2 separate regions of the Homo sapiens genome follow, and region 2 is linked to region 1. Evidence: fine-mapped expression QTL. Tissue or cell type: left ventricle. Region 1 holds a variant in brackets; the other region holds the start of a gene. All regions are shown on one strand. Distances are between the middles of the regions. Region 1 overlaps TBL1XR1 (TBL1X/Y related 1). Region 2 holds the start of TBL1XR1-AS1 (TBL1XR1 antisense RNA 1).

What was found. PIP is the estimated chance that this variant, and not a neighbour inherited with it, causes the effect.
Region 2: it holds the start of TBL1XR1-AS1, and the variant in region 1 is the best candidate, but not a certain one, in a credible set for the expression of TBL1XR1-AS1 in left ventricle (GTEx, PIP 0.57).

The regions. Positions count from the first base shown.
Region 1 is chr3:177,108,531-177,120,194 of GRCh38, forward strand. All of the region lies in intron 1 of TBL1XR1 (TBL1X/Y related 1), which reads right to left. Among named protein-coding and RNA genes, the nearest start is that of TBL1XR1-AS1, 77 kb to the left of the region's middle. The variant AT/A (reference allele first, on the strand shown) is at 6,462.
Region 2 is chr3:177,032,905-177,042,736 of GRCh38, forward strand. TBL1XR1-AS1 (TBL1XR1 antisense RNA 1) reads left to right here and starts at 4,501. Exons shown (of 4, transcript NR_174966.1): 1 at 4,501-4,840; 2 at 5,458-5,546. It overlaps TBL1XR1 (TBL1X/Y related 1), which reads right to left. Exons shown (of 16, transcript NM_024665.7): 11 at 5,409-5,530; 12 at 5,194-5,268; 13 at 1,294-1,421; 14 at 67-232. RefSeq lists enhancers at 4,476-5,675, 7,017-7,311 and a silencer at 8,722-8,966.

The sequences.
Region 1 (11,664 bases):
TTATTGTAAAGAAAATAAACTAGGATTTATAATCCTATTGAATGCCTAAAGGCATTTTCGCACAGAAGTAATACTAATATCAGTTAATTATAACTGCATGTATAGTTTAAAAGGGAGCAAAAAGGTTAAAAATAGTATAGTATTAAAAGAACAAAAAGAATCAACTCCCTAAGCAAAAAAATTGTTTGAATTATGAATTTCCATGAGTTTAAAAAATACTAATGGTATTTTTATTAATGCAAACAACAAAGAAACAGACAATAAAGACACTGGGCTAGCTGAGACTGGTCCTGGAAATGCGTCCTCTTTGCCAGAGCAAATAGAAGGAAGGAAGAAACAGAAAACACTGGCCATAAGTTGTGGCAATACTAGCTAATGTTCACCAAGCAGCGATGAGAAGAAATGTTATGCCCATCTTAAAAATTAACAGAAAATGAGCTTGCATTTTAGCTTTTTGATGGGATAAGGATATCTGGATACCAAAAATCACTTCTATAATAGAGATGAAAATGTTATTGTCAAACATGTTTTCTTTTCACATTTTCTAACAATCCTAAATCATAATCTAATTCACAGATAAATATGGGGAAAAAACAAGTAAATTGTATATTTGTAATTAATTTTTAAAAACAAGTTAATATATAAACAAAATTACATTTAAAATTGTCAATTTCATACCTTTTCCCAATTTTTTAATTGAACATAAACTGAATATGAAAGCAACCAAACATTCAATCAGAAACAAAGAACCTGCACACTAAATGAACTCTCTCCATTAGAAATGCATTAGTTACTCAAGAAAATACAAACTATCAAGCAAGTCCCCTTTAAGAGAATAGGAAGAAATGTAATTTAAAGCCTATGTTTACCTCCAAGACTAAACAGAAGGTTGTTTTGTTTTTGTATTTTGGGATGATTGTAAGATTTGTCCTGCAGTAGACAACAGAACTATGGGAAGAAAGAAGAGGTGGGGAAAGAAAGGAAGAAGGAAGAAAAAACAAATTGTAATTAACCTTTCTACTAGAGATTGTTAACATTAAAAGTTAGCCCTTTACATCGAGTTACTATTAATTCACCCACTGGGGACAAAACTTACTAAAATACATCAGTAAATAAAACACAGATCCCTGCTCTCTCACAGTTTAAATTCCAGCAGAATTTTGATTAATAAGTAATGTTACAATCATAAATGCTATGAAAAAAGAAAAAGTCCAAGCAGGGTAAAGGGATTCAGAAGTTGGGGGGAAGAGAGGTGAAAGAGGAACCCCTGGGTTGCAATATTAAAGTAGGATGGTCAGAGCCAGAGTTGGTTTGTATTTCAATTGAGAGACAGCAAGATACTCAGGAAGCTTCCTGTATGCTCGATGTTCTGTGTACAGACAATGATGTATGAAGACGTGCCTTATATCTTGGTGTTGTCCGCTTACTACTGGAAGGCATACCTAGAACACTTCCTTATTCACAAAATACGTCATTTATGTTTTAGTTACTCTAATTTTTTCTCTGCAGTATCGATTTGTGCCTGATGCCTCCTATATATTGTGAAGCTACAACTCCTAGGAGACCTATCAGGCATTATAATTGACATGTTGTATATGCAGGCCATGATAAAAGCTATGAAATGCTAAAGAGAAGATGTGCCAAATCAAAGAAATTCTTAACTGTAACCCAGAGTCTATTCAGTCAAAATATTTTCAGACACACATTCTTACAAAATTAACATCAAAGAACTTCAAAGTTTTTCCAAGACACATGATACAGAAAAACAGAAAAATGTCACTAAAATAGAATGTCTAATGACTTAAGCCCTTCTACAGTTTAGGCAACAATTTGTAAATATCCAGCAAAGCTTACAATGTATCTAGGGCTATACACCCACCATTACGAATTTAAAATACCTGACTAGGGAAAAATAACAAAACACAAACCAGAACTTCTTTGCTTAAGAACACCTGGTCTTGGTTTTGTGGTTTTTTTTTCCCTACTGTGTTCACTATTCTTCAGCAGAAGACAAAGAGGAGGCAAAGGATAAATGTCTGTGAAAATGCATAAAGCTAGAACTATGAAGACACTAAGCTGAATTTTTTCAATACCTTCTATTGTAAATGCACAGGAATAAATGACAGTATGTCTGTGACTTATGCCTACTATTGTACCTAAAACACAATTCTAGATATGAATAAGAATTAAATGAGATGAGAGGAAGGAGTGGTCAGAACTTAATGAGAACGGGGGGGATATTTTGGGAAGCAGATAAGTGTGAGAACAAAAATCTTACCTCCTCTTCATGAGAGAAAAGAAGCCGGAAATTGTCTAAGGAATACTTCTTCTAGATAGGGTCCAGAAGAGGAAAATATCTTTCAAACAAAGAGGAAAAAAATGTGTTGTGTATGATTTTCACCCCCTTGATCTCACGTCAAGCAAATCAACAGTTGAAAGGAACTGCTCTAACAACTCAGACTCAACTAGACAAATTCACAAAACCTAAGTAGGCCACACCTGGCATGTGTTTACAGAGAAAGCTACAGGACAGGACAGGCTAGCAGGGCAGTATCACGCCAGGCACACAACAGGAGGACATGCAATCCAGGAGCTATTGTCTTTGCACCTCTCCCTACTATCATCACCATCACCATATCATTATTCAGGTAGGTATGCAAAGGGCAAAGAATCCACAAACGATACAAAAGTTACCCTGGGTTAGACACACCTGAGTTCCACTGAGAAACCACTATGATTGATTTTTTTTTTTTTTTTTTAAAGACAGAGCCTTTCTCTGTTGCCCAGACTGGAGTGCAGTGGCGCTATCTCGGCTCACTGCAACCTCTGCCTCCTGGGTTCAAGCGATTCACCTGCCTCAGCCTCCCGAGTAGCTGGGACTACAGGTGCATGCCACCATGCCAGGCTAATTTGGGTATTTTTAGTAGAGACAAAATAGCTGGGAGGATCGGTTGAGCCTGGGTTTCACCATGCTGGCCAGGCTGGTCTTGAACTCCTGACCTCAAGTTATTTGCCCATCTAGGCCACCCTAACTGCTGAGATTACAGGCTTCAGCCACTGCGCCAGGCCCACTATCATCTTATAAGCATCTCCTGGACATATCTTCCAGGGCACCCAATCCACGAAGGATATGCTGTTTTAAGAATGCATCACACCTTCCCAAACCAGGTGCAGTTCACGTGTCAGGAATCTCTTTGCCATACCCTATATGGTGGCTGTTAATATTGACATTTCACTTTAGATTTCAGATGAGTCAGAGCTAAACATTAAACCAAGGTCATTTATTCACAGAAAGAGAAACGGTTTAGGGAACCTTTTACAATGCACCTGGGTCCTCATCCCAACTCTGCCTGTAGGGTGCCAGTGGTCTTAGGCCTACAACTTAAGCCTCTTAAGACTCACCACCAACAAGCAATGACTGGGTTTATTGGATTGACTGCTAAGATCCTTTGAAGCCTTTTAAAAAATAAGAACTAGGCCCTGAAACGAAGAAGAAAATATCTCCTGCCTTCTAAGAAATAAGACAACAAAGATATAAAATCAAATATATATATATATATATATATATATATATATATTTTTTTTTTTTTTTTTTGTGAGGGGCTCTGACTCTGTTGCCGAGGCTGAAGTACAGTGGCACCACCTCGGCTCACTAAAACCTGCGTCTCCCGGGTTCAAGCAATTCTCCCACCTCAGCTTCCCAAGTAGCTGGGATTACAGGCGTCTGCCACTACGCTCAGCTAATTTTTGTATTTTTAGTAGAGGTGGGGTTTTGACACGTTGGCCAGGCTGGTCTAGAACTCCTAACCCCAGGTGATCCACCCACCTCAGCCTCCAAAAGTGCTGGGATTACAGGCACGAGCCACGGCCCCCGGCCTAAAGTATCATTTAAATAGCATGGAAAACTTGTTTTGATCATAGGACAGTTAAAGAAAAGCTGTCTCATTCAATCCCCTTTGTTTTATGCATACAGATTGAGATCGGAAATGGTTAAACATTCTTATCAGAGGTGATAAAATGAGTATTAAACTCTACATTGCTGGCACACTCAGTATCATTTAAATCTGACTATTTTGTACAGTACATAATATTGTCCGTTTTAAAAACAAGTAATTAGGTGCCCGGCCAAATTTCTACTTTTCAAGAAAAAGAAAAGTATGAGAACACTTTTTTGTGAAAGCCCTCAAAGACCTGCTGGGTGCGGTGGCTCACACCTGTAATCCCAACACTTTGGGAGGCTGAGGCGGGCGGATCACGAAGTCAGGAGTTCGAAACCAGCCTGGCCAACATGGTGAAACCCCGTCTCTACTAAAAATACAAAAATTAGTCGGGCGTGGTACCATGTGCCTGGAGTCGCAGCTACTCGGGAGGCTGAGGCAGGAGAATCGCTTGAATCTGAAAGGCGGAGGGAGGCAGAGGTTGCTGTGAGCAGAGATCGTGGCACTGCACTCCGATGAAGCAAGACTGTCTCAAAACACACACACACACACACACGGAATAGAATAGAGAGAACCCAAAAGTAAATCTACACATTTACAGTCAACTAATTTTTGACAAAGGTGCCAAGAACACACAGTGGGGAGAGAACAGTGTCTTCAATAAATGGTTTTGGGGAAACAGAATGAATATTCACATGTAGAAAAATGAAAGTAGACCCTTATCTTTCACCATATACAAAAATTAAACAAAAAAAATGGATTAAAGACTTAAGCATAAGACTCAAAACTAGAAAATTACTAAAAGAAAACTCAAGAGGAACACTTCCTGACAGCAATCTGGGCAAGGATTTTCTTTGGATAGGACCTCAAAAAGTACAAGCAACGAAAGCAAAAATAGACAAATGGGATTACATAAAACCAAAACCTTCTGCACAGCAAAGAAAGCAATAAACAGAGAAAAACAATAACCTACAGGAGAAAATATTTGCAAATTATGTATCTGACAAATAATATCTAAAAGAACTTAAGACAACTCAATAACAAAAAATCAAATAACCTAATATTTAAAATCGGCAAAATGGCCAGGCACAGTGGCTCATGCCTGTAATCTTAACATTTTAGAAGGTGAAGGCTGGAGAATCGCTTTAGGCCAGGAGTTTGTGACTAGCCTGGGCAACATATGGAGACCCCATCTCTATAAACAATTTAAAAATTAAATAAAAATAAATAAATGGCAAAAGACCTGAATAGACATTTCTCAAAAGACATGCAAATATCAACGGGTTTATGAAAGAATGTTCGACATCACTAATCATCAGGAAAATCAAAACCACAATGAAATATTATCTCACCCCAGTCAGTATGAACATTATCAAAAAGACAAAAGACAACAAGTGCTGCTGAGAATATGGAGAAAAGAGAATCCTTAACACACTGTTGGTGGCCATTACTGAAAATAATATGAAGGTTTCTAAAAAAAAATTTAAAACAGAAATAACCACCATATGATCCAGCAATCCCACTACTGGGTAAATGTTGGTCAAAGGATACATAATTACAGTTAGACAAAAAGAATAAACTTCAAGAGATCAATTATACAGCAATTTGACTAAAGTTAAAAATGGCATATTCTTGAAAAATGTAGAGTAGATGTTATGTGCTCTTACCACAAAATGGTAACTATGGGGTAATGCATTTATTAATTCACTAGATTCAACCATTCCTCTCTCTATATGTATACATACATCATATATATACATACACATCATATATATATACATCTCATATATATAATCATATATATATACACACATCATATATATGGATACATATATATGATATATGATATATATATGATAGGGTCTTGCTTTGTTGCCCAGGCTAGAGTACAGCAGTGTTATCATAGCTCACTGCAGCCTTGACCTCCACCTCCCCAACCCCAAGTTCAAAAGATCCTCTTGACTCAGCCTCCCAAGTAGCTGCCCAGCAAGACCAGCTAATTTTTAACTTTTTGTAGAGACGGGCCCTCACACTGTTGTCCAGGCTAGTCTTGAACTCCTGGGCTCAAGAGATCCTCCTGCCTTGGCCTCCTGAAGTGCTGGGATTACGGCATGAGCCACCACACCCAGCCAATATATGTATTTCAAAAGATTTGTGTTGCACATGACAAAAACATAATGTCGTATGTCACTTTTTTAAAATTAAAAAGAAAAAAAAAAAAGTTTGGCCAGATACGGTAGCTCACACCTCTAATCCCAGTGGTTTGGGACGCTGAGATGGGAAGATCGCTTAAGCCCAGGAGTTCGAGACAAGTCTGGGCAACACAGCAAGACCCCATCTCTATAAAAAAAATGTTAAAAATTAGCTGGGCAGGGTGGCATGCACTTGTAGTCCCAGCTACTTGGGAGGCTGAGGCAGGAGGACCCCTTGAGCCCAGGAGTTTGAGGTTGCAGTGAGCCATGATGACAGCTCTACACTCCAGCTTGGGCAACAGAGTAAGACCTTGTCACTTTGGGGAAAAAA[AT/A]AATAATAATAATAATAATGATTTTTAATTAAAGTATCACTGTAAGGAGGAGTGAGGCGGTCTACATCCATATTGTCTTACTGCCACAGTGCCATGGGCAGGATGGACTCCATACAGTAAGGATCTTGGGCCCCCACCAGAGTACAGTGTAATGCCATCAACCAGTAAGTACACTTTTTAACCATCTACCTGACCCAGCTTCCAATTACTTTTGACCTATAGTATTTCATACAACTAACTACTTCCTGCAATACTATATGGATGTAACTGTTAAAAAAACTGATGATACTTTTAAAAATCAGGAACTTCACCTGATGGAGTCAGGTCAAATTTACTTAATAACATAATCAGTATTTATAAGAGAGACTGAAATTTTAAAATACATCATTTTTCTCCTTTTGGAAGTTTACCAAAAAGTCTTGGAAGGCACAAAAACACTAGTCATTATCATAGTCATATTGTGCTGCTTACTGCTATTCACTACCCAACCCAAAAGCCTGAGGGTCACACCCCTTTGCTCTGCCTCCTTTGTCCACCACAACCGCAAAATTTGGTCAATTCTTCCCCAAATCTCTCTATGCTGCCTACTGACCCCCCTTCAATCACACTATCCGTACGCCTCATTCCACTCTTTCCCCGCAACTTTGAGGTCTACAGCCCAAATTGTTTTTAATGCATCCCAAAATTTATAATTGAACATCATTGGATATCTAAAATTTAAGCTTTTGATTTTTTTAGTTTTGAAGCAAGAAGTAGTAATGGGTTTCTTTGTTGAGGCACTGCTTAATTAACTATTCATTTAACAACTCTTCAGATGCCTTCAGCCTCCTTGCTAACATAATTCTAATTTTCTTCAAAGCAGCAACAGGCCCAGATAAATACTTGCTTTCCTAACCTTTCTTGCAGCCAGAGGCAGCCATATTGATCAGTTCTGGCTGGTAAGGCCTCAGAAGTCCGCTAGGGAAGGAATGAGGAGGCCAGGGGAAGCTTTTGCTTTAATGAAAATAAAGAACAGGTGCAGCACTTCTTCCTGCTTAAATATGATGCCTCCTGCAGCAGTAGCCATTTTCCAACCCAGGCAATAAACCTGATGGAATTCATCACACTAAGGGCAATGGAATTTTGAAAAACAGTACCTTCCTGTCTCACAATTTGTTTAAAATGGTATTTTACTTACTTGAAACCAACTAGACATCATCATTCTCCCCCCAACCCATGTCACACAATGCATTGCAAATTTTCTATGTATAAATTTAATTCATCTCCCACCCCAAACTTGTTCCTCTTCTCGTATTTCCTACCTTGGTGGATGGCGCCACTTTCACCCAACTTGTCACCCAAACTAGAGATATGGCTCCTTCTCCTCCCTCATTTCCTGTAAGTAAGCACTAAGCACCATGACCTTCTATTTCTAGGATGCAACTTGACATGTGTATGTTTTTAGTTTCCCAAACTCCTCTTACATTAGCAGACTTTGGAAATGCTGTATCCTCTGGCTAAATTTTAGATCACTCACATCCTACTAACCATTGTGGATATCCATTTTACATGCCTGTCTCCCTTCACTAGAAGGTATGTATCTTGAAAGATGCCTTATCCAGCTTTGTAACTTGAATGCCGAGAACATATGGGATAGAATAAGAACTACAATAATACTGTTACTCTACCTTCCACTGAGAATCAAACAACAAGCTGGTTATTTAACCTCTCTAAACCTCAGTTTTCTCATCAGTAAAACAAGATTGTAATGGTATCTTCTCTCAGAGGAAAGTTATGTTAACTAAATGAGATAATGCATTATCAAGCACGTAATAGTACCTGGGAAATAAAAAGCACTTAATAAATGGTAGCTGTTGCTATTTTTCCTAGATTTTCTATATGATGGGAAACACTGAACTGTCCTTTACCAGAAGTACAAGATTTGCTGAAATAAACTGTCAATCCACCCAGTCTGAAAGTCCAGAATGCTTTATTTTCTGTGCTTAGGAACATTATGCAGTTTATCTTATAAAAACAACATGACCCGGTTTCTAAACACACTGCTATTGGCATTCCGAAAATGGGGTAACGATTCTAGAATAAATACTGAATATAAATGAGAAGGGAGAAAAAAGAATTTGCAGGAGTGGGTCAAGATTATGGCTTTGAAGAAATGATGCCCATTTTTAACTAACATCACAACCAATAATCTATAGTGGGTACTGGATTAATCAAATCTCCACTATTTAAACAAACATCAGTCTAGTATTATTATTCCTGTTCCCTGTCTTCCAAATAGTAGCTGCGAAGCAATGAAACTATTGCCTAGAATAGCAACACTGAATTCCTGGGAAAGATATTTTCAGCAACAGCAAATAATGGGTAAATTTAATAAGGCTTCCATTAAAGCCTGCTCCATAATTACACAGTATTTTAAAATAGTACCTTTATTTTGGTATTGAAAGTCATGCAGATTGCTGAATTATCTGCACAGTCTAAAATTTCCCTTTTAGATATGACATCAAAATAATGTTAAAACAGTCATAGAAAATACCAGTTTCCCATTCAGCGTAGTTCCTTATAGGCAGCATAAGCTCTCGGGTCTCCCAGATTGTTTGCTACACAGGGAAATCTAATGTGCTCTATAAATTCTATTAATATGCATCTTTTCTAGTGCAGTAATGAAAATGTTAACACTTTGATTCAGTCTTGACTTCAAATTCCACTAGTACAGTGACTAATCTTCTAATTTGAAAGAATTCAACAAATCTTACTTAGAGCTTTAATAAACTCTACTTCTATGCCACTGATTGGGAGAAATATAAAGTAAAACTGGCGATTTCTTTCCAAGGGCAAAGAAGCAGTATTAAAGAGCAGAATGGGTTCAATGGGAAGGAAAAAAGGTGAATGTCAACCAATAACCACTGAACATTCTGACCCCCTCAATTTGCTATTTTTATACTATGCAAGGTAGTAAGAAATCAGAAACCAGGAGTCTATCGTAGGTAGTAAGAAATCAGAAACCAGGAATCTAGGGCCAATGGCCATTTATAAATCTTTTATAGGTAGTATACGAATTGTGACTTTCTTTCTTTACCTCACCTACCATTTTATCCACTCTTCTCAGCCAGAGACTCAGGACATATTAGTAGAAAGCTCAAGCAATGACTACCCACATTCTAAGAAACTAGTTCTATTCCATGCGAATATAGAAGTTCCAGATCCCAGAGTCTGTTATTTCAAAATCACTCGATCTTTTCAAAGTCTCTAAAGAGTTCTTGAACATTCATTCATTCATTAACTCATTTAAGAGCCTATTTAAGGACAAGCACTGTGAACAAACAACTATACGTCTTTCATGCCCTCATCGCTGAGTAGCTTTAACATTGAGCCTAATGACTCAAAATGACCTAATGAGGCCCTTTTCTCATCAAAGCTAAAAGTGTGACCACGGTATTTTTATCCAAAGGCATGACTAGATTCCTGAAAACTTAAAATGCAGCTTCTTATACTCACCCTTTCACTGATCAAAACAAAGCCCACAACGGAAGGAAGAAGAAAGGAAATAAAAAGACAGACATTAGGAAGACTTTAAAGAGAATCCATTTGTGAATTCCCTTCTTTATGAGGCTTAGTTGCATGTAATGCTGTCAAATATCATAGTTCTTCATTCATTTAATAACTAGTTACTGAATGTGTACTATTTGCCATGCTTCATTTCAGATGCTAAGAACAACAGTCAAGAAACCACCCTGAAGTTTGTATTTTAATGGGGGAGTAGAGACAAAATGAATACATTATAATATATGGCAAGTGTCGTATTTTGTCAGTTTCTCAAACTGAACTTTTATAAAATCAAGAGATACGATTTAGCATTGTAACCATTCAGGCATATTGCCTGCAAACCAGACAGCAACTCCACATAATAACTCAAGAAAAATGGGACCTATAGAAAGTATAAGCTCATAAAAACAAAGAAAAACCTGGATAATCAGGTTTTTTTTGTTTTTTGTTTTTGAGACGGAGTTTCACTCTTGTACCCCAGGCTGGAGTGCAGTGGCATGATCTCGGTTCACTGTAACCTCCGCCTCCTACGTTCAAGCACTTCTCCTGCCTCAGCATCACGGGTAGCTGGGATTACAGGCACCTGCCACCACACCCGGCTACTATTTGTATTTTTAGTAGAGATGGGGTTTCACCATGTTGGCCGGGCTGGTCTCCAAACTCCTGACCTCAGGTGATCCACCCACCTCAGCCTCCCAAAGTGCTGGGATTACAGGCGTGAGCCACCGCACCTGGCTGATAATCAGGTTTTAAAAGAAAAGAAACCACAGCAGTTCCACGGGTGAAGAATATTTACACCCTACCCAATTTGATCCTGGAACCTTTTCCACAACTTGTCATAAAATATGGTCCCATCTCTTTTATTTTTCCAATCGATGGCTGGATTCCTATATAATTAGGGCTTCTTTTGATTTTGTTTAGATAAGTAAATAGACATGAATGGTTAGGGGAAGGGGTGTTTTGAATCCTGAGGCAGAGAAACCTACATAGAATGGTTATTCATATACTGTCTTTGTTTCTTAACTGTCCCGCAACAGAAATTGTTGAAATTTGCTGAACAAACAGTGACCATTCACTACATTGTGATACACTGCTGGTCCAGATCCCAGTCTAGGCAACAACACCAATTACCAATTTTGCAGATTATTTTAGATTATACTTCTGTGACCATTTAATGTTCCTCCATGATCAACTGGCATACTTGCGTGGCTAGAAGCTCCAGAATCAACCACACGACACGAAGAAACATTCCAAAGAATCCTTGGTCCTGTGTATTGAATTAGTGCTCTATACCAACCTCACCCATTTTCTACATGGTCATTTTATTGTAATGCAACCACTGCCCTTGGTATTAGTTACTTCAAATTTCAGGGAGAAAGAGTTGGGATATCCTCCTTTTTGCTAACAGAAAGCCCTTGGGGACTCGCTCATCTAAAAATACTGCGTAAGGTGAATCTAGTTATACTCCAGCAGGTGTCTCACCAACCTTTATTTAAATAAGAGGGCCATTTTCCAACTGCATCATCTCTAAACAGCAAACATAACTATATAGAGCCTACTTCTGGAGCACAGAATTGATAACCTTAACTTCTCATTACTTTCCAACATGCACTCCTCCCTGTGATAGTATAGGTCTTTACCTCCAGTTATGCCTTCTTT
Region 2 (9,832 bases), 77 kb before region 1:
AGTGTATAGGCAAATGCTTCTACCTAAATTTAAGAGCACTTGACCATTTAAATAATGAAGACATACCTGCGTGTTCCAGATGTGTACACATTTGTCAAAAGAACCACTTGCCAGATACCTGCCATCAGGACTGAAAGCTACACTGTACACAGGCTCTTGGTGTTTTGTCAAGGTATGGATGCATATCCCTCGGTCTACATCCCATAACCTAACAGTAGAATCAAAGGATGCACTGAAAAAGGAAGGAAAGAAAGTTAATTTATAAGTAAGGAAATACTCCCCCAGCCTTGCTCCCACCCAACCTCCCATATTCAGCCAAATCTAATAGCCAAAATTCTTTATGAGAAGCAGACCGACTGGACTGTTAGGAAGAATATTCTGTGATCTTCAAGTCAGTGACAAGAAAATAATAAATAAATGAAATTTAGAAAGAAGAGCAAGTGTTCTAGAAATTAAAAGCTAAACAAGCGAAAAAAACAACTTAAAGGAATCTCCCAAGTCCAGGAGTAGAAAACGTAAATGTGCTCATTTACTGTATTCCTCTCTGTCTAAATAATCCCTCTTTCGCATGGTTTTGAACACCAAAGTGACCACATTTTTCCATTTATCTTTTTTTTTTCTAAAGATACTGAAGATTTTGCTATGCCTCAATTGCTTGGATTTTAATCAGTATTTGGTATCAGTCAATATTTGATTATTTCAATATAGAATATCATTATAACTTGAAACAATAATAAAACTCAGTGTTTAAAGATTCCCCTTAAGGAACCGACGTAAGTGCCCATCAGCTAACAAGTGGATAAAGAAAATGTGGTATACATACACCATGGAATACTACTTAGCCATAAAAAGAAATAAAATATTGTCCTTTGCAGTGACTTGGATAGAGCTGGAGGCCATCATGCTAAGTGAAATAACTCGGGAATGGAAAACCAAATATCATGTTCTGACTTGTAAGTGGGAGCTAAGCTATGAGGACACAAAGGTATAAGAATGATATAATGAACTTTGTGGACTGGAGGTGGGAGTGGGGAGAAGGCTGAGAAGAGAGGTGAGGAATAAAAGACTACACACTGGGTACACTACACTGCTTGCAAAACCAGTGCACAGAAATCAGCACTAAAGAATTTATTCTTGTAGCCAAAAACCACCTATACACCAAAAACTACTGAAATTGGAAAAAAAAAAAAAAAAGTTTCCACTTCATGAAATCTTCCCTAAACTTCTGTCATATCTATTGGAAGTCTGATTTGTAGAAGACTCATAAAAGGAAAAATGAAACAGAAGTATCACCTTGCTAACATAAGGTTGGCATTTGGATTATTAGTCCCTGGTCCTGTTGGACTCCATTTGATAGTATAAATTTCTTTATTATGTGCTTGCAAATCATGGACACAATTGTCTTGTTTCATACTCCATATCTAAACAAAAAAGAAAAATGTATACAATTATTTTTCCATACAATGAGTATATTTAAAATATTATTTTGACACTTAAAATATTATATGGACAGTCTAAAACATGAGTGATATAACCAGAATGATGATAGAATATTTACAAAGAAACTGAAATGCAATAGGATATATTTAATATTTACATCTCTGTTTAAAAAAAAAAGTTAGCTTTAAGCCCTTTAAAAATATTCACTATTACAAAGTTTGAAGACTGAATTAACTATAGTTGTTCTGAGATTAGTTAACGATCCTAAAATGTTGAAGGCACAGTTTTTACACTGTCCCTTAAGCAAAAGATCTACATAATAAACTGCTCTTAGAATTTTAGAATCAGGAAAATTTTACAATGGAGAACTGAAAATAAATAACCAACTTATAAATAATGAGGACTCACAGAGAACCGTAAAAAGTAGCATAGGAAATAAAGCTCAAATGAAAAGTAGGAAAAAAAAAAAGTAGAAAAAAGTAGTCAAAGTAGAGAATAAGCCTTTCCTGAGATGAAAATATGCCTGTGTGTATAGATTTCAAGTGACTATTATTTTTGAGCAAAAATTCATAGAAATCAACACGAAGAGTATTTCTGGGAAAAAAAAAATCACTCAATAAAGACATGGTAGGTCCTGCAGTTATCTCCTTAACACATACACATACAACATGCCAAACCCAAGGAGGGCCAACCAAGAAAAAAATCAGCTCAACTTTACATTTCCGTGACATAACCATTAAAAGATAATGAAGCATCAGAGTGTTTTTGGTGCCCTATGTATTTACAACCCCAAGTAAAATAAATCTGAACGACATGTTTTCAGAACTGATTTCATTAGACCTTTCTAATTCATAGAATTTGATACTGTTGGCCACTCTCAACTCTTACCTCCCTTGAAATAAGTTTCCTCTACATACTTTCTTTTTCCACTTTCTCAGTCACCTTCTCAGTTTCCTTTGGAAAGCTCATCCCTCTTGATTTGGTGATTGTTAGAGTTTCTAAGACTCACTTTTTTAGGTCCCCTCTTTTCTTACTCTGTACTACCTACACAGTTTTGTCCCTGCCCCAATTTTTTTTTTTTTTTTTTGGAGATGAAGTCTCACTCTCTTGCCCAGGCTGGAGTGCAGCACCACAATCTTGGCTCACTGCAACTCCGTCCCCCGGGTTCACGCAATTCTCCTGCCTCAGCCTCCAGAGTAGCTGGGATTATAGGCACCTGCCGCCACGCTCGGCTAAATTTGGTATATTTAGCAGAGATGGGGTTTCACCATGTTGACCAGCCTGGTCTTGAACTCCTGACCTCAAGTGAACTGCCCACGTCGGCCTCCCAAAGTGCTTTAATTATAGGCATGAGCTGTGGCAACATGGGGGCACTAGCTGTGGGTGTCTGCCTGCAGACCCTGACCCAGCAATGGATGAATAAAGTACACTAACACACAGATATCCTGTTTCGCCAGTCCAGCTGAGGGTGTCCGAGCCATTTACAGACTCCCTGGAGAGTTCTGTAAACAGTTGCGACCATGGCCCTATCCGCTAGTGAGACTCAAATTTATTCAGTAAGATTAATTCACAAAGGCTTGAGTCAACACCATTAGAGGGTAACTGACATTGTGGACTTCCCAAGTAAAAAGCACTTAAGCACCCATGGCACATCAAAGGTTAGTCTTAATATTATATGAGTAAACAAGCTAGCTAGGTAAACTACCCTGCCTTCCTTTATTACTAGTTTAATTTGTTTAACTAAAGGTAAAGGAACCAGGCCGCGTTCAGCCAGATCTATTACTGAAGTTACTTCTCAGTTTTCCAAGAAGATATGTGTCTATTTCTATAACTATCTCTAATATTTTTCCCACCAGCCTGATTGAACCCCAACAGTGAACCACCAGGCCTGGCCATGCCCAAGGATTTTAAAGACCACCTATCTGCTGAGAATTCCCAGTTTTTAATCTTGAGCTTACAGTTCTCTAAGCATCAGTCCCACCTATCTCCTCCATTCGCATGACTCAGCGTCACCTTCTCATTCCATCTGGCATTCCCTCTTCTCAGAAAACGGCCCATTACACATTATCCATCCATCCTAGTTTTTGCTTTAAAATCCTTTGTGACATTTAAACATTCTTAGGATGAAGAAAAGCTCTCTAACAATTTCTAGTTTTAACCTCTCTCCAGCTTCAACTCAATATGTGGCACAAGGCCCTCTGGACACTGCCCTTCTGTCATTTCCTCATATGTGTCACACACAGTTCCAGAAGAAGTTTTTTTCATGTTATAAGCATTAATACGTGTGCACATAAGGAAAAGCCAAAGATGAAAGCATTAAGAAGAGTATTAATACTAGCAATTTTGTAAGGGAGCCCAGACTTAAGAAGAACTGTCTAAAAACATAGCAGATACTTAAAGGAGAAAACCTCACAAGTTTCGCAAAGTTAAATTTAATCTGTTCATAGTAGCAGGAAAATCAGTTTTCCCTCATGATTTTCATATCTGTAACGGTCATCACATCTGCAGTCCTTGGTACTGCAAAGTCAAGGATAAAACTGTTTTCAGTAGAGGGTTAGCTGTTGCAGGAGAGGGCTCAAAGCTTCATTTATTTTGGAAATAAGTATTACGTTGTTCTTTATCTCCAAATGCTTTTTTCCCCAAATGAGGAATCTGGTGTGCTTAGGTGCGAGACAGCAGTTTTGCTTTTAGTCATACAACAAGAAAAACAGAGATCCATGTTGAGATGTGGATGTTGGTATGTCAACTAGGCTCGCTCACTGAGAGATTCTCTGCTATGTATCAGTTTCCCAGCAATGGTGATACATAGTCATACCACAGCAAAATCAAATTAATACAACGCAAAGAATTCCAATCAAATCCATGAATGCTACAAAGATTTTGAGTACTTATTAAGTCAAATCTTTACATATGCAAATAAACTTTAATTGCAAATAAACTTTAATTGCCTCAACATATGACTTTCTAATGGTGAAGACAATTTATAGCATGACCTTTCTTACTATTGGTGATGTCTAATTTTATCTGTCTTCTTGACTGAGTCACAGGGTACAGATATTTGGTGAGACATTATTTCCGGCTGTGTCTGAGGGTGTTCCCAGTTGAGACAGGCATTTAACTTAGCTGACTGAGAAAAGCAGACTGCCACCCTCCCCAATGGGCGGCGGGGGGGGCATCACTCAGTCCAGTGAGGCTCTAAACAGAACAAAACCGCCAAGGAAGCAAGAATTCTCTGCCTCAGCCTGACTGCTGAGTTGGTATATTGGTCTTCTGCTCTTGGACTGGGACTTACACCATTGGCACTCCTTCTCTGGCCCTGGAATGGAACCACACCTCCATCTTTCATGGGTCTCCAGCTTGTAGACAGCAGACTGTGGGACTTCTCAGCCTCTATAATCACGTGAGTCAATTTCTCACAGTAAATCTCTCATCCATCCATCCATCCATCCATCCATCCATCCATCTTCTTATTGGTTCTGTTTCTCTGGAGAGCCCTAACTAATAGGGTATCATATGTCTCATTGTATCACAAGCCATCATTTTAATATAATTTGCTACATTCAAATAGTTTTATGTATTTCAGAAAAGAAACTATAAAATTTAAAAAACAATGGTTAGCCATTTAAAATGTTGGAGTTTTCATGCAGGTACAAACACTCCATGTAAGACAGACATTCTAAATGGTCTTAAAATGGCCAGAGCAACCATACTGTGTGACACCGCCAACCCATTTCTCCCTACTAAGCAAATTACCTTTAAAGTCATGTCGTCAGAACAGGAGGCCAAGAGATTGCCAGTTGGGTCCCATTTGATAGCATTTACTTCATTCTAAAAATAATAGTAAATATTCACATTTTCATTGTATAGACTGGGTAGCTACTTGAATATTAAACATACATACTTTAAAACTATTCTGAAACATTACTTGTTAATCATGACCACTTTAATGTGGAAAAAAGGTTTCTTACCGTATGTCCTTGGAATGTTTTAATAGGTCTGTCTTGTCCTAATTTACAGACATGAATGCACATATCTGTACTACAAGAAGCAAAGGTGTTGTTGCTCTGCCAATCAACATCCAATGCTGGTGCTGCAAAGGAACAAAGGTTAGATTTGCTTTTATTCCACATGTACTAAAATCCAAGAGTTTTAGCTTTGAACCATTGTTGACTAATAAAATATACTAACAGGCACTTAAACATTTTACTTTATACTTTTTAAGATATTAAGAAAAAATTAAAATAAAAGTATCTATATACAACAATATTAACAAATTTCAATTTAGTTATTTCTAGGTGAGACAGACCCTAAGAGAAAGTACACTGGCCTAGTAACTGGGAGATGAAGGTTCCTGAGAGCTGGCTCTGTGGGTCTTGGGTTCTCTTTTATAAAATGATAAAATTAAATGTGATGATATCATGCTTTTCATTTCTAAAATCTGTGAGTGTTCAATGGACAAGAAGCCTCGGTTCTGTCACTGCATAATTAGTGGACACAAGCAAGTCACTTAACCTCTATGATATATCCTCTTTAGATAAGGGTAACATGCAAGTGTTACCCTCACACACAAGAGTGAGGATAACACACAAGTTGAGCACCCCAATCTGAAAATCCAAAATCCACAATGCTCCAAAATCTGCAACTTTTTGAATGCTAATATGATGCCACAAGTGGAAAATTCCACACATTAAATGCTTAATACAAACTTTACTTCATGCACAAAACTAGTAAAAATACTGTATAATGATGCCATCTGGCTATATTATAAGGTATATGTAAAACATAAATTAATTTCATGTTCAGACTTGGGTCCCATCCCCATGATATTGCCTTATGTATATGCAAATATTCCGAAATCAGAAAAAAAATAAAAATAAAAAATGCAACACAATCCTGGTCCCAAACACTTAGATAAGGGATACTAAACTTGTACTATCTTTATCCTTAGTACACATGGTGAAGACCAGGTGAGATCATGTGTGTGGAAGTACTCTGTCAATTACAAGAGTTAGACAAATGTTATGCTGAATAAGTATCATTCCCATTATCATCTACTCAACTAACAAATGGAATACGGCATATGATTTGCAAATAATTTTCTTCTAAGCAACTTTTGCCAAATACCTCTTAAAATCTGTTCTTGTCAAACACCTCTTAAAATCAAATGCCCCTTAAAATCAATGAATTTAAAAATCTCTGAAGCCCCAAAGCAGGCTGGCATTTAATACTTTGAGTTTAGCTCTGAAATTATTGAACATCCTTGTCTCCTGCTGCAAGGTGCAAAAGATCTCCGTAATTAGCAACACAGATTATGGTAATAATAGTGAGTAACTGGGTTAGGCAACAGAAGCATATCAAAGACTGCATTTAAAGCAGGGGTTGACAAACTATGGCACATAAGCCAAGAATGGCTTTTATAGTGCAATGGGGGAGGAGGGGATCAAAGGAAGACATACAAATGTGGAAAAATGAGATTTAAAGTTCAGTGTCCATAAATAAGAGTTTTATTGAAACCCAGACAAATGCATGAAGTTGCATATTACCTATGGCTGCTTTTTCACTACAAGGGCAGAGCTGATTAGTGGCAACTGAGATCTTATGGCCTACAATGTCTAAAATACTTTCAAGTCCTTTAGTGAAAGTTTGTCAACCCTAATTTAAAGAAAAAACTTAAAGGGGAAAAACAGGAGAGTTAAAGTTGAGCTGTGTGGCCAGGTGTGACTCAGCGCTTTGGTAGCAAAGGCAGGAGAACTGTTTGAGCCCAGGTGTTTGAGACCAGCCTGGGCAAGACAGTGGGACCTCATTTCTAAAAAATAAAAAATTAGCCAGGTGTAGTGGTCCATGCCTATAGTCCCAGCTACTTGGAAGGCTGAGGCAGGAGGACTGCTTGAGCTGGGGAGGCCGAGGCTGCAGTGAGCCGTGATTGCACCACTGCACTCCAGTCTGGGCAACAGAGTAAGACTACTATGTCTCAAAAAACAAAAACAAAAAGTTTAGCTATGTATACTAATTAGTAGAAATACAAAGCATTTAATAAAGGAGATTAGAGACGTCTGTGGAAAGGGAAAACAAAGCCACAAACTCCCTCATTGTGTATATCCAAGCATAATAGTAACTGGCTATGTTAAAAATGAAACATAAACAGGTGCTTAAGCAGTTAAACTTATCAGCCAAGAGATATGTCATGCGTAAGAACTTGTAACTATGGATAGGAGAAGTAAAAAGAATGGGAAAAGAAGATTTAAAGCATTTAGGACTCAGAAAGGAAATTTTAATCAGAACTATACTGAGATTTTTTTTTTTTAAAAGATAAAGTACAACAGGAAAGAGTGAAATTGATTTCACTGCCTGGCTAAAGACAAATCAGGTAAGCCCCAAATCTAAAAGTACTAAGTACTAAAGAACAAAGAAGCGAATTGTAGTAATATGACCAGACATTAAAATAATTAGTTTTGGGTATATTTCTACAATGAAAAACTAGGTATCAGGACACCACTTGGATAGAGTAAGCTCATAAAGGAAACAGACTGGAAAGAAAAGATTTAATGGGAACTTACTATGGAGGTTACATGAAATTTCAAATAACTATATTTTTAAAATATTTAATCCTCCCTCAATCAACCTTTTAACAAAGTGCCATATAAAATTATTAACATAAATTCACCTTTTATACAAAATTTCAAATTATGAGAATTCCCAACAAAGTAAACATAGTCAAAAATCACACCTCAGAGTTGTCAGGCTGAGTAAGTTGCAGGCTGTATTTTTATTCTAGTCATGAAGCAGCACTGCTTTAGCTGGTGTTTGCTCTTCCTGCCCATAAGCCTTTTTGCCTGTGCTGTGTCCAATTCCCAGCTGAGTGCTTCACTGCTAAGGGCTGCCAGGGACAAACTTCACAGAACTGCCTTGCTCTGCTGCTCTGTATCCAAGCTGGTGTTGTGTATGTTTTTGGGAAGGAGGGAGGGAGGAGAGATCTAAAGACCTAGCACCCTTGGTTCAATGTAAGAAAAACTTTGAGGTGCAAGCTCCCCTCTGCACCAGGCTGAGACTGGGCCTTTCTTCACCAGAATCACTTCCTTCCTTGGCTTCTTCCCTCCCCCCCATCCTGCTTCCCATATTTCTTCACTTATTTCTCCTAAGAGGTTTTCCACAATAAGTCACTTCACTCAAATGTTTGGCACAGGGCCTGCCTTTTGGAGAAACCCAACCTAAATCAACTAGTAAACAAAAATATGTGCCAACTTTATCCGCATGATGTGTGAACTCTGCCTCTACTTGTGTGTATCACCATTTCTGACAGCAATGTGGATGACTGTCCTGTTCATTTGGCAGTCAACTCTCATTCGTTCCTTACTGCACTCTGCCCTGCTAGGATGTGCAACCCAGGAGGGCTATTGTAAGTTATGTCCCGGGTTCCTGTGCCTAGTGGTTTCCAGATGGGTTCATACAATGTAAGACACTGTCAGGAGTTCAAAGTGAGGAGTCCAAAGTTAGGAGTAGTAAGAAGACAAGCACGACTGCCATCATTTCAGGCTGGGTGTCGAGCATTGCCAGGCAGCCTATCCTCTACAACCCAGTCCCCACTGGACAATCAGGTCCTGCCTTCTCCTCTAGAGTCTTAGACTTCCTTCAATTAGTCTCTTGGTTACCTCCTATTCCTTAGTTTTTCACTCTTCCCAACACCTCTGCAAATATTTCTTTGTATTAAATTCCCTTTATTGGAGTGTCTAGTTTACACGTCGTTTTCCTCCATGGAACCTAATTCAGTAACTACTGTGCACTTTCATTTTGACTGTGCACTTTCATTTTGACATTAAGTATTATCACTTAAAATACAATTCTAAAAATTTTAATTTTTTTGGTTAGTAATCTTTCTATTGTTAACAAGTGCAAAAAAATGGGGAAGGGAGGCCTGAAAAATCCAATTAGAAGACAGTTAAAGATACATTAAAGTGTTATTCACAAGGCCAAATATATGTCAGGATGTTCCAGAGGTGTTAATTTTATACAGGGCAGCCTGCAAAATGTTAGAGAGGAGGCTAAAATAAACAAAAAGTAGCATTAAAACAAACACGCTATTAGGTTCATAAAAGAAAAACAAAACCAAACTACATAACCAAATCAAGATTGTTGGGATGTAGGAAATGTTGCAACGTAGGTTGTGTGATTAACGCTTTTGTGATATGCCTGCCTCATAAAATACAGTGCTTATAGATTGATGTAATCAAAGAACACATACCTCCTTATTTTATATTTACTCTTAAAATGAGTCTTGATAGTACAAGTTCTTTAGAAAGAAATATCTAACATAAAAAAAAATTTTATGTACCTGACAAGTGAGAGAAGTGTGTTCACTAATACCCATCTCATTTTACACATAAGAGGCTATGAA